Regions from separate parts of the Homo sapiens genome. Here region 1 is linked to region 2. The links come from fine-mapping of genetic effects on gene expression. A gene starts in region 2. The other region holds a variant in brackets. All regions are shown on one strand. Distances are from middle to middle.

What was found. PIP is the estimated chance that this variant, and not a neighbour inherited with it, causes the effect.
Region 1: its variant is the best candidate, but not a certain one, in a credible set for the expression of FAM110A in T cells (TOPMed, PIP 0.90).

The regions. Positions count from the first base shown.
Region 1 is chr20:853,241-858,614 of GRCh38, forward strand. No RefSeq gene overlaps it. Among named protein-coding and RNA genes, the nearest start is that of FAM110A, 22 kb to the left of the region's middle. RefSeq lists an enhancer at 2,910-3,896. The variant C/T (reference allele first, on the strand shown) is at 2,817.
Region 2 is chr20:831,542-836,915 of GRCh38, forward strand. It overlaps FAM110A (family with sequence similarity 110 member A), which reads left to right and starts at 2,174. Exons shown (of 2, transcript NM_001042353.3): 1 at 2,174-2,410. RefSeq lists a silencer at 2,425-2,574 and an enhancer at 4,091-4,190.

The sequences.
Region 1 (5,374 bases), 22 kb after region 2:
ACTACTGGTCCCACCCCGAGGATATTGCAGTGAACAAAATGGACCAAAACACCTGCTCTTGTGAAGCTCACAGCCTAGGTTGTAGACAGATGTTAATTGATCATCCTAATAATTGTATGACCATTGAGAGTAGATTCCGGAAGGAGAGATTGCTGACCTGGCCAGGTTGATCTGAGAAGCCAAAGATATTTAAGCTGAGATGTGAAGGGTAGGTAGGAGACAACGAGGAGAAGAAAGATAGGAGTGGAAAATGATTCTAGATGGAGGGCATGTGCAAAGGCCCTGTGGTGGGAGGAGTAGATTCCAGGAACACAGAGAAGGTGGGTGGGGCTGGGCCTGAAGCACCAGGGCCAGATGGTGTGGGGCTGCTGGAGCCTTTGAACAATGTGAGGGTCTGTCTTGCCAGGCAGCCTAAAATAAAACCGAAAGGCCTAACTGCTCCACAAGGCCCTCATGATCGGGGACCTTGTTACTCCTCCAGTCTCCCCTTTACCTACTCTGCTGCAGCCATGCTGCCTCCTTCCTGTTCCAGGAACACCCTGGACACATTCCCACCTCAGGGCCTTTGCACTTGCCATTGCCTTTACTAGTATCGACCCTACCCAGATATTCTGATGACTCATTCTGTCACTTCATTTCCATCTCTGCCTCTTCAAAGGGGCCTTCCCTACCAACCCACCACAACCCCCCTGCCCCTCCAGCTAAGCAGTCAGCATCCAGCAGTCTCTACTTCCCTGGCCTGGTTTATTTCTCTTCCTAGCACATATCACCTCCTGGCTTATATTAACCAGAGGCCACATTGTCTGTTTCTCTTCTGGATCTCTCACCAGAGTGCAGCTCAGCAGGCAGGGACTTGGCCTTGCTCTAGGCTGTGTCCTCAGCCTCAGGGGAAGAGTAGGCATTCCATAAACATTTGTGAATAAAGAAATGAGTGAAAATGAGTGAGTGAATGCTGGAAAGAACTAGCTCCTGGAAATTAGGAGGTCTGGGTTCAAGTTCTAGCTGGGCGATCCTTTCTGTTCCTTGGTTTCTCCAGTTGAGCTGTGAGGCATTTGTGGTCTCTAGGGAGGTTCTAGGACAGGAAAGGAGTACTCCAGGCTGTGGAGGGGGCCTATGTAGGAAGAAGGGAGCTGGGGCCTTCCCTTTGGCCTTCTGGCGTTTGAAAATAGCCTAGCTCAGCCCCTAGCTTGGGCCCCTACCCTCCCTGGGGTGCCAAGCTGGAGCCAGGGGGCTCTGTCTGGAGCCTGCCAGCCTGGTGCCGGGCTGGGATCAAGGCCACCTGACAGCTGGGCCAGGCAGTCCTGGAAGGTTCTTAAGGGCAAACAGGGCATGCTGGATGTCCCAGACCTCCCTCCCCACCTATTGTCCCTCCTCCCTCAGTGTCCACCGGCAGGATAAATCCCTTCATCCTCTACAGGCCTGCAGCCCTTGCAGCTTGCAAATCTTTTTCTTGGTTTGTTTCTAATTTCACCCCTGCTCAGTAGCTACTTTACTGGTGAGGACACTGAGGCTCAGAGATGACAACTGCCTCACTGAGGTTACGTTGCAGTTATGATTCAGGCCCAAGTCTTGCCCAGCCCTGTCCTGTCACCGCGTGCACGTGTGTGTGTTTGTGTTTGTGTGTGTGTGTGTGTGTGTGTGTGGTCTCACTATCAAACAGTGCCCTCCCTTAACCACCAGTGCCCCGGGTCTCTGATAAGATGTGATGACTATGAGCACCTGGAGCCAGGTGGCCTGGGTTCAAATCCCACCTTTGCTACTTCTATACTGTGTGGATTGCTGGGCCACCCCCACCTCAGTGTCTGCTAATAGGACAAATCCCTTAATCCTGGGCACTGGGGCACTATCAGGACTAGCATTGTATACATTGCACAGGTTTTAAAAAATGTAATCTGTAGGCTGGGCACAGTGGCTTACACCTGTAATCCCAGCATTTTGGGAGGCCCAGGTGGGTGGATCATGAGGTCAGGAGCTCAAGACCAGCCTGGCCAACATGGTGAAACCCCGTCACTACTAAAAATCCAAAAATTCACCAGGCATGGTGGCGGGCACCTGTAGTCCCAGCTACTCGGGAGGCTGAGGCAGGAGAATCGCTTGAGCCCAGAAGCTGAGGTTGCACTGAGCCGAGATTGTGCCACTGCTCTCCAGCCTGGGCAATAGAGCAAGACTCCGTCTCAAAAAAAAGGTAATTTGTTGTCAATATTTACACATCTAAACCATTGGAAGAATAATGTATATATAAACTAGCTAATGAACACCTACCAAGCCCCAAGCACCAACTGTATGTCCAGTACAGAGCCAGCTGCTCCAGGGGAGTTCGTTCCTGGGAGGGGGCATCATGATGAAGTGGGCGTGGTTCCCATTTCCTCCAGCGTAGTCTCAGAAGCGGGAAGCCATGTGACTGAGGTTACAGCCAGGGAGGGCAGAGGCCCCCGGCACTCACCCCTCTGGGGTCCAAGCCCCGCTGGCATGTGTTGTGTCCCTGGGTAGGTGTGTCACTCCCTGTCTGTGTCTCCAGTGTTCCTGTTGGCAAATCAGGGGTGGGACGGAGGTAAATGGAGAGGCCCTGCCCAGTCTGCTGTAATCCAGGATCTCGGACTTAGTGGGGCCAAAGCTTCCAAGTTCTCCTGATTAGTGAGGCTGCAAAAAATGTTTGGCATGTTATTCTCTCACCGTTTAAATGTGGGCAAGTAACAACTTACATGTAAAATTACCCCCATATACCAAGCATTTAAGTTATTTATTATATCATTGCTTACAATAGCAAATAATTGGAAATTATTTGAGAAATGGCTAAAGAAACTCAGGCCCAGGTA[C/T]GCAAGGGAATCCTAGGCAGCCCTCAAAAGATGTCCTGCAAACACCTGATGTGGAATCACAAGATACACAACACAGGTCAGTGAACAAAACAAGTTGTGGCATGATACCCACAGTGTGCTGCTGCTTGTGGAAGCAGGAACACATGTCCATGTACTCTTGTACTGGCACAGAACCCTGGAGAATTATCCTGGGAACCCTGCATGCTGGCTGCCCCTGGGGAGGGGAACCCGAGGGTTGGGCTCAAGGGTGGGAGGCAAGACTCACTACTTTGCACACCTTTTGAATTTTGAATCATGTGAATGTGTTATCTGTGCAGAAAAAATAAAAATACATTTAAAGTAAAGTGAAAGTAGACAAGAAACCTGAAACAGAGACGGACAAGCAAGCCTGCAGGCCCAGCCAGCTACCGCCCCCGGGCAACCTCATGCCACACTGTGGGCTCTGCCCAGCTTGGTTTTGTGGCTCCACCCTCTACGGTCATATTTGGGTTTCCACACACACAGCACCCAAAGGAAATCCCAGCTAACGCACATCAGGTTCTGGGCTGGGCCACCCGCCAAGGTGGTTGGTGGGCATGACACCGCCCCGGGAATGGCGTCGTCCAAATGCCTGAGCAATGACACGGCCTCAGATGGAATGATGCCACTGCCCACAGTCTCACAGGCCCTCCCATCTCGCCTTTGTTCTGCAGCCTCCAGGTGGGTGTATGGACACTCCAAAACAGCCATCCCTGTCAATGAATCAGCCTGCAGGGACTGAATTCATTCCTTCATTCATCAATATCCATTGAGCACCTACTGTGTGCCAAACACTCTTCTAGGAACTGAAGATGCAACAGAAAACAAAACAGATAAAAATCCCTGCCCTCGAGGAGCTGACATTCCAGAGGGGACACAGACAATACTTGCCAGAGTGAAAATGCTAAGGAGAAAAATGAAGCAGGGAAGGATGGGGAACTAGAGATTTTTTTTCCTTTTTTTATTGAGGTTGAATTGATAAACAATAAAATTGGCCCATTTTAGGTGTACAGTTGGATGCATTTTGACAGTTGTATGGCACTACAGACAAGTGCTAGAATTCCTGTATCATCCCACCATGTTCCTTCACGCCCCCCACAGTCAGCCCCTGACTCCCACCCGCTCCCACCCGAAGAAACTACAGATCAGTTTTCTTTCACTGTAGATCAGCTTTGTCTTTCCCAGAGTTCATGCAAATGGAATCTGGCTTCTCTCAGTCAGCATCATGGACTTGGTTGAGATTCGCCCGTGTTGCTGAGTGTATCTGTAGCTTGTTCCTTTTTACTGACGAGTAGTATTCCACAGTGTGGATGCACTGTATTTTGTTTATTCATCCAACTTGTTGACGGACATACAGGTTGTTCCCATTTCTTGGCTATTACAAATAAAGCTACTATAAACATTTGTGAACAACTCTTTGTGTGGATGCATATTTTCATTTCTCTTGGGTAACTACCACGGAGTGGAATTGCTGGACCTCGTGGTAAGGGTAGCTTTATTAGAAGCAGATCTCATGCTTTTAAACAGGATGGTCAGATAAGGTGTCACCGGCTCGGTGATATTTCAGGAGAGGCCAGAAGGAGGTAAGGGGTGTCTGCAGGGAAGAGTGTTCTGGGCTGAGGAAACAGAGTCAGTATGTGCCTGGAGTGTTTGAGGAACAGCATGGAGGCCATCAAGGAGGGAGTGAAGGACGTGAGGGGAGAGGGCTAGGAGGTGTGCTCCATGTGGAATGAGGCTAGATGGTATAGGGTCACATACATCATGGTGAGGACATTGGTATTTTTTTCTTTTGACATGGAGTCTCGCTCTGTCACCCAGGCTGGAGTGCAGTGACACAATCTCGGCTCACTGCAACCTCCGCCTCCTGCATTAAAGTAATTCCCCGGCTTAGCCTCCCAAGTAGCTGGGACTACAGGCACGTGCCCCCACGCCCATTTTATATTTTTGTAGAGATGGGGTTTTGCCATGTTGTCCAGGCTGGTCTCAAATGCCTGACGTCAGGTGATCCGCCCACCTCAGCCTCCTGAAGTGTTGGGATTACAGGTGAGAGCCACTGCACCTGGCTGAGGACATTGGTTTTTCCTCTGAGAACCCGTGGGAGGAATCTGAGCAGAGGTGGGACAGGATCAGACTTGCATTTTAACACCTTCCCCCATCTCCAGCTACCAAGTGGAGAATGGGCTGCAGGGCTGCAGGGAGGAGGCTACTGTAATAGTCCTGGCAGGAGATGAAGGAGTTGGACTGGGGTGGAGGCGGTGGGGGCTGAGGGGTGTGGGATTCTGGATCTTTCTGGATCTACCCCGAATGTGGAGCCAACAGGGGATGTATTGGACGTGGGATGTGGGGAAAGTAGGGACATGAAAGAAGGCTAGGACCCAAGGTGACCTCTAGGAACTGAGAGTGGCCCTCCAGCTCCCAGCTGGCAAGGAAACATGCATCTCAGACCGGCAACCACAAGAAGTTGAACTGTGCTGACAACCAAAGGAACTTAGAGTGGACCCTGAGCCGCACAAAGGATCACAGCCTAGCTGACACGGTGA
Region 2 (5,374 bases):
ACAATGTAGCAGAGGGCACAGGGCCAGGATTGATATTTAGCTGGTCCTCACGGATACAGCAGACTCCCTGTTTATGACAGTGGTTGGCTCTGATTTGGTTGGTGTCCATGCCAGAGTGTACAATCATTATTAGCTATTGATATATTATTAGCTCCCTCCCCTGCCCACCCAGGGGTTTACGCAGTAAGTTCTCAATTATTGGCAATCCAAACAAAGAATAAAAGACACCAGCTGGAATGAAACAGAGAAGCTGGTTCCAAATTGAGCAATTCAGACTGACTGCTATAAAATTTCCTCACCTTAAAGGCCCTTAGAGTTAATTCATTCTAATCCCCCTAAAAATATACTTTTTTGACATGTTCAAGTATTGGAAATTTGGAAAATTCACAAAAACACAAAGAAGAAATTAACTGCTGTGATTATAGATGATTATACACATATACATATGTATTTAATACATATTTATGCTGTACATAGTGTTTTGAAGCATACTGTACTTCAAAAAAATTTGGGAGGGGTGCATTGGCTTATGCCTGTAATCCTAGAAATTCAGGAGGCCAAAGCAGGAGGATCACTTGAGGCCAGGAGTTCTAGACTGGCCTGGGGCAACATAGCGAGACCCGTAGCTTGACATGGTGATGCGGGCCTGTAGTCTTAGTTACTCTGGAGGCTGAGGTGTGAGGATTGCTTCAACCTAGGTTACAGTGAGCTATGATTGCACCACTGCACTCCACCCTGGGCAACAGAGCTAGACCCTGTCTCTAAAAAACATAAATAAACCAATGTTTAATACTTAGCATTTCCCCCTATCTTTAAATATCTTCTAGCTACTTCACTTTTATTTTTATCTTTTTGAGATGATCTCTTGCCCAGGTTGGGGTGCAGTGGCATGATCTCAGCTTACTGCATCCCCCACATCCCAGGTTCAATCTATTCTCCTGCCTCAGCCTCCTGAGTAGCTGGGATTACAGGCATGTGGCACCACGCCTGGCTAATTTTTGTATTTTTAGTAGAGACGAGGTTTCACCACGTTGGCCAGGCTGGTCTTGAACTCCTGACTTCAGGTGATCTGGTCGCCTCAGCCTCCCAAAGTGCTGGGATTACAGGTGTGAGCCACTGCTCCTGGTAGCTACTTCACTTTTAATGGCTGCATAATATTCCTCATCAGAAAGTGGGAAAAATTAGGCTAGGTGGCGTGGCTCATGCCTGTAATCCTAGTACTTTGGGAGGCTGAGTTGGTAGAATTGCTAGAGCTCAGGAGTTTAAGATCAGTCTGGGCAACATGGCAAAACCCCATCCCTACAAAAAATACAGAAAATACCGGGTGTGGTGGTGCACACCTGTAGTCCCAGCTACTTGGGAGGCTGAGGTGGGAAGATTGCTTGACCCCAGGAGATTGAGGCTGCTGTGAGCTGAGATCCTGCCACTGCACTCCAGCCTGGGCGACAGAGTGAGACTCCATCTCAAAAAAAAAAAAAAAAAAAGAAAAGAAAAAGATAAAGAAATAAATAAAGTGTTAATAATTAAAAGTACTTTTAGAGGGTTATGTCATAAGCCTTGACAAGACTTGTTCTGTAAAGCTACCCGGCATGCAAAAAGCTCAATTAAGTTAGCTCCTCCACAGGATGGAATTATATAACCAATCCCTTTCAAGAGGCATTGAAGTTGTTTCCATTATTTTGCTATGATGAATAAGGCTGAGCAATATTAATCTTTGCTCATATCTTTGGTCATTTCCTTTGTAAATTTCGGGACTGCTGGGTATGCACATTTTAAAATTAACTCACTCATCATCATGCAGTTAGGAGAACAGAGAAAGGAAGGGGCTTGCACCGGGTCACATAGGGAGTTAGCGTCAAAGTCAGGACTAGGAACCAGCCAGGGCCCTCTAACTGGAGCTCTTCCAGCTGGGGTCCTAGAGGAAGTCCCAGCTGGCCGCGGGAGGGAGGAGGAGGAAGGGAAAGAACCAGGCGCCGGGGCTGAAGCGGCGGCAGGAAGAAGGTGGGGCCGGCTGGGAGGAGCGGGCGGAGCTGCTGAGCAGCGCCTCTCCTTCGGGCGGGGGAAGCTAAGCGGTCGCCTGGCAACCCTGGCGGCGCGCCGTTCGAACGGAAGCGAGGAACCAATCAGGAAGTCCGGGGCGAACCATTCTGGTGTGAAGGGGGGCGGCGTGCTCACTTCCCCTTCCACGGCGCCCCAGGGACTTTCCCTGCGGTGGGGGCCTTCGACAGTGAGGGCCACCCGCTCAGCTCGACCGCGGAGGGCAGCTCCAAAGGGGACCCCAAAGGTGCCCACGCGGGGCTGGGGCCTCCTGGGCGTCGTTGGGAGCGGCCACTACCGGCCCGGGTCCGAGCTGTCAGCCTCTCCAAAGCCTGCGCGAGAGGAGCCGGGACACGCCTAGCGCGGGCTCCAGGTGAGGGCGCGGGTGGGTCCGGGTGCGACCCCGGGTCTGGGGGCCCCGTTCCCCGAGCGTCTGCTGTCTGCTTTCTCCCCGCGTCGTACCTGCGTGTCATTTCACAGATGAGGACTCTGAGGCTCAGAGAGGCAAGTGTCCCGGCCCGGCGAGCTCTGGCGGAGAATCCAGTTCAAGTCTTTCTGCCCCACCTCGCAGCCCCCTAGTCTAGTCACATCTGGACTTGCCTTGAGAGGCCCAGACGGGCAACTGGTAGTCATTTTCCCAGCGTTTTATCGGCAGGGACCTGTAGACCCCTGGCTGGATCACATATCCCCGCGCCCCACACTGTCCTCGGGATACCCCCTTTGGGCGTCTGTCTTTCCTTCTCCGCAGTCCGGGGTTGGACTCGGCTCATTTGGCGCCTTTCTGTCTACGGGGACAGAGGACCACTCTTTGGGGATCGGACGGGACTGACATTTCTGGGCTGGATGCAGGGGCAGCAGATTCTCCAGCCCCCAGAGCCGCTGCTGGCCTCTTGGGAATCATCCCCAGTTTGGGGAAGGGAATAGAGCCAGTCCCTAAACCAAAGCCACTAGTCACCAGAGACTTTGGAATTGGGAGTGGGGCCGGAATCCCCCCAGGTGGAGCAGCTGACCTAGGCCAGACCCTGCTGTGTCTCCTGGGGACACCCCCTGCCCCCTAGGTTGCTATTGTCAGTCTCCTTTTGTAGGTGGGGAAACGGAGGTTCTAAGAAGTTAAGCCCCTTTTCGAAGTCACAGTCAGACAATGCAGTGGTTAGCTCCTAGTCCCTCTGGCTTCAATCTTAGAATCCTTGACACACAGAATCATGCATTTTGAGAGTCTTCAATCTCTTCATAAGGGAGTTACATATCCTCTCTCCTCTGGAGCCTGCCCCTGGCTTTGGGGGACAGGATCTCCGAGGACTCAGAAAGAAAACAAGGCTTTCTTTTATTCTTTCAACAAATATTATTTATTGACTTCATAAGCCCTGCTCTGGTTCTTGCATGTTTTGGTTTTTTTACTTATTAGCAAATGTATCATCTTCTCCCACTGTGATGCAAGGCAGGGGCTGAGGCAATTGAGCCAGTGCAAAATTTAGGGATGCCCAAAACCTCAGTAATCAAGACTGAAACTAACGTTCATGGACCATTTGTGTGTTCTGCAGGCAGGAGGTTAACTCACACAGCCTTCATGAAGTGCAGTCCTCCCATCTCTCTCTCTCTCTCTCTCTCTCTCTCTCTCTCTCTATATATATATATACACACACACATATATACACACACACATATATGTATATATATGTATGTGTGTATATATGTATATATGTGTATATATATGCATATTTATAAATCATGAAACCACTGCCCTGTCCCTGAGTTGCTCTGTGACATTGAGTAAGTTTCTTCAGTCTCTGGGCTGAGCTAAGAAGTCATGATGGTGCACTCAGGCCTGGGCAGAGGGCAGTCTAGGATAGGAAGTGGGCTTGGCTGTGGATCTGCCTCCCCCTCCCCTTTCTAATCCTGCGTGCCAGGCCCTTCCCCAAGACCTTGCATGTGTTATCTTCCATTCTGTCCTCACTGCAAAATCCTTCATCCCCATTTTGCAACCTCAAGTGCAGACCTAGGCCTAGAAGATCAACTTGGTATCAGTGGGCCTAGATGTCCACATCCACACCCATTCCACAGCCTACTCCCTTCTCCCTTCCTAATGTTAGTGCAAGGCCACCCTGAGCAAGGCTGACTCCTGGGCAGGCCAGGGCACCAGCGTCTGGGAGGCCTCCAGAAATAGCTCAGGGCCTGGTGTGGCTCTGGAGGTGGCCCAGCTGGGTGTCCCTGACCTGGACAGCTGGGCTGAAATTGAGCTGGGGCTGCCCTGCTGGCTGGCCCCTTGCCACTGCCTGGAGCCTTCCCAATCTCCTCTGGGGCAGGCAAGGGCCTCCCCAAATCTAGGCCAGGCTTCTGCTGAAGGGAAAGAAAGAAGCAGGTGGGAGGAAGGGGGCGGGTTGGGTGTAGAATGTCATGAAAATTATAACCTTTGGAAACCACACCTCCCACCCCCTCACCAAAGAATAAAAATCACTAACACCTCTTGAGCATTTACTATGTTCTAAGTACTTTACAAGTATGAACTCATTTAATTCCCTCAACTCTGTGATATAAGGTAATTACTGCTGTTCTTATTTCCATCTTGCAGAGGGGAAACTGAGCACAAGAGAGGTTTAATAATTTGCATAAGATAACCTAGAGGTGGAGTTTGAACCCAGAGAGTCTGGCTCTAAATTTTACATTTTTTGGGGGGGGGGGTGGGGTGGGGCAGTGAATGAATTAAAATGTATATAAAATAAAATTTACCATTGTAACCACTTTTAAGTATACAGTTCAGTGGCATTAAGTACATTCCCCATTGCCTCTCCCCCCAGTGCCTGGCAATCACCATTCTACTTTCTGTTTGAGTGAATTTGACTACTTTGGGTACCTCTAGGTATTATAAATGGAATCATAACAGTATTTGTCTTGTTGTGTCTGGCTTATTTCACTTAGCATAATGCCTTTAAGTTTCACCCATGTTGTTGTATGTGTTAGAATTTTCTTTTTTATGGCGGAATAATCTATTCTAATATTCTATGTATATGCCACATTCTGTTTATCCATTCATTCCTTGATGGACACTTGGATTGCTTTTGGCTGTTGTGACTAATGCTGCTTTGAGCATGAATGTACAAATATCTGTTTGAGTTCCTGTTTTTAATTGTTTTGGGTATACACTCAGAAGTGGAATTGCTGGGTGATCCTATGGCAATTCTGTTTAATTTTTTGAGGAACTACTTTACTGTGTTTCACAGTGACTGCACCATTTTATGTGTCCATCAGCAGTGCACAAAGTGCTAATTTCTCAACATCTTCACCAACACTTGTTATTTTCTGTTTGTATTTTTTTTTTGGTAATGGCCATCTTCAGGGG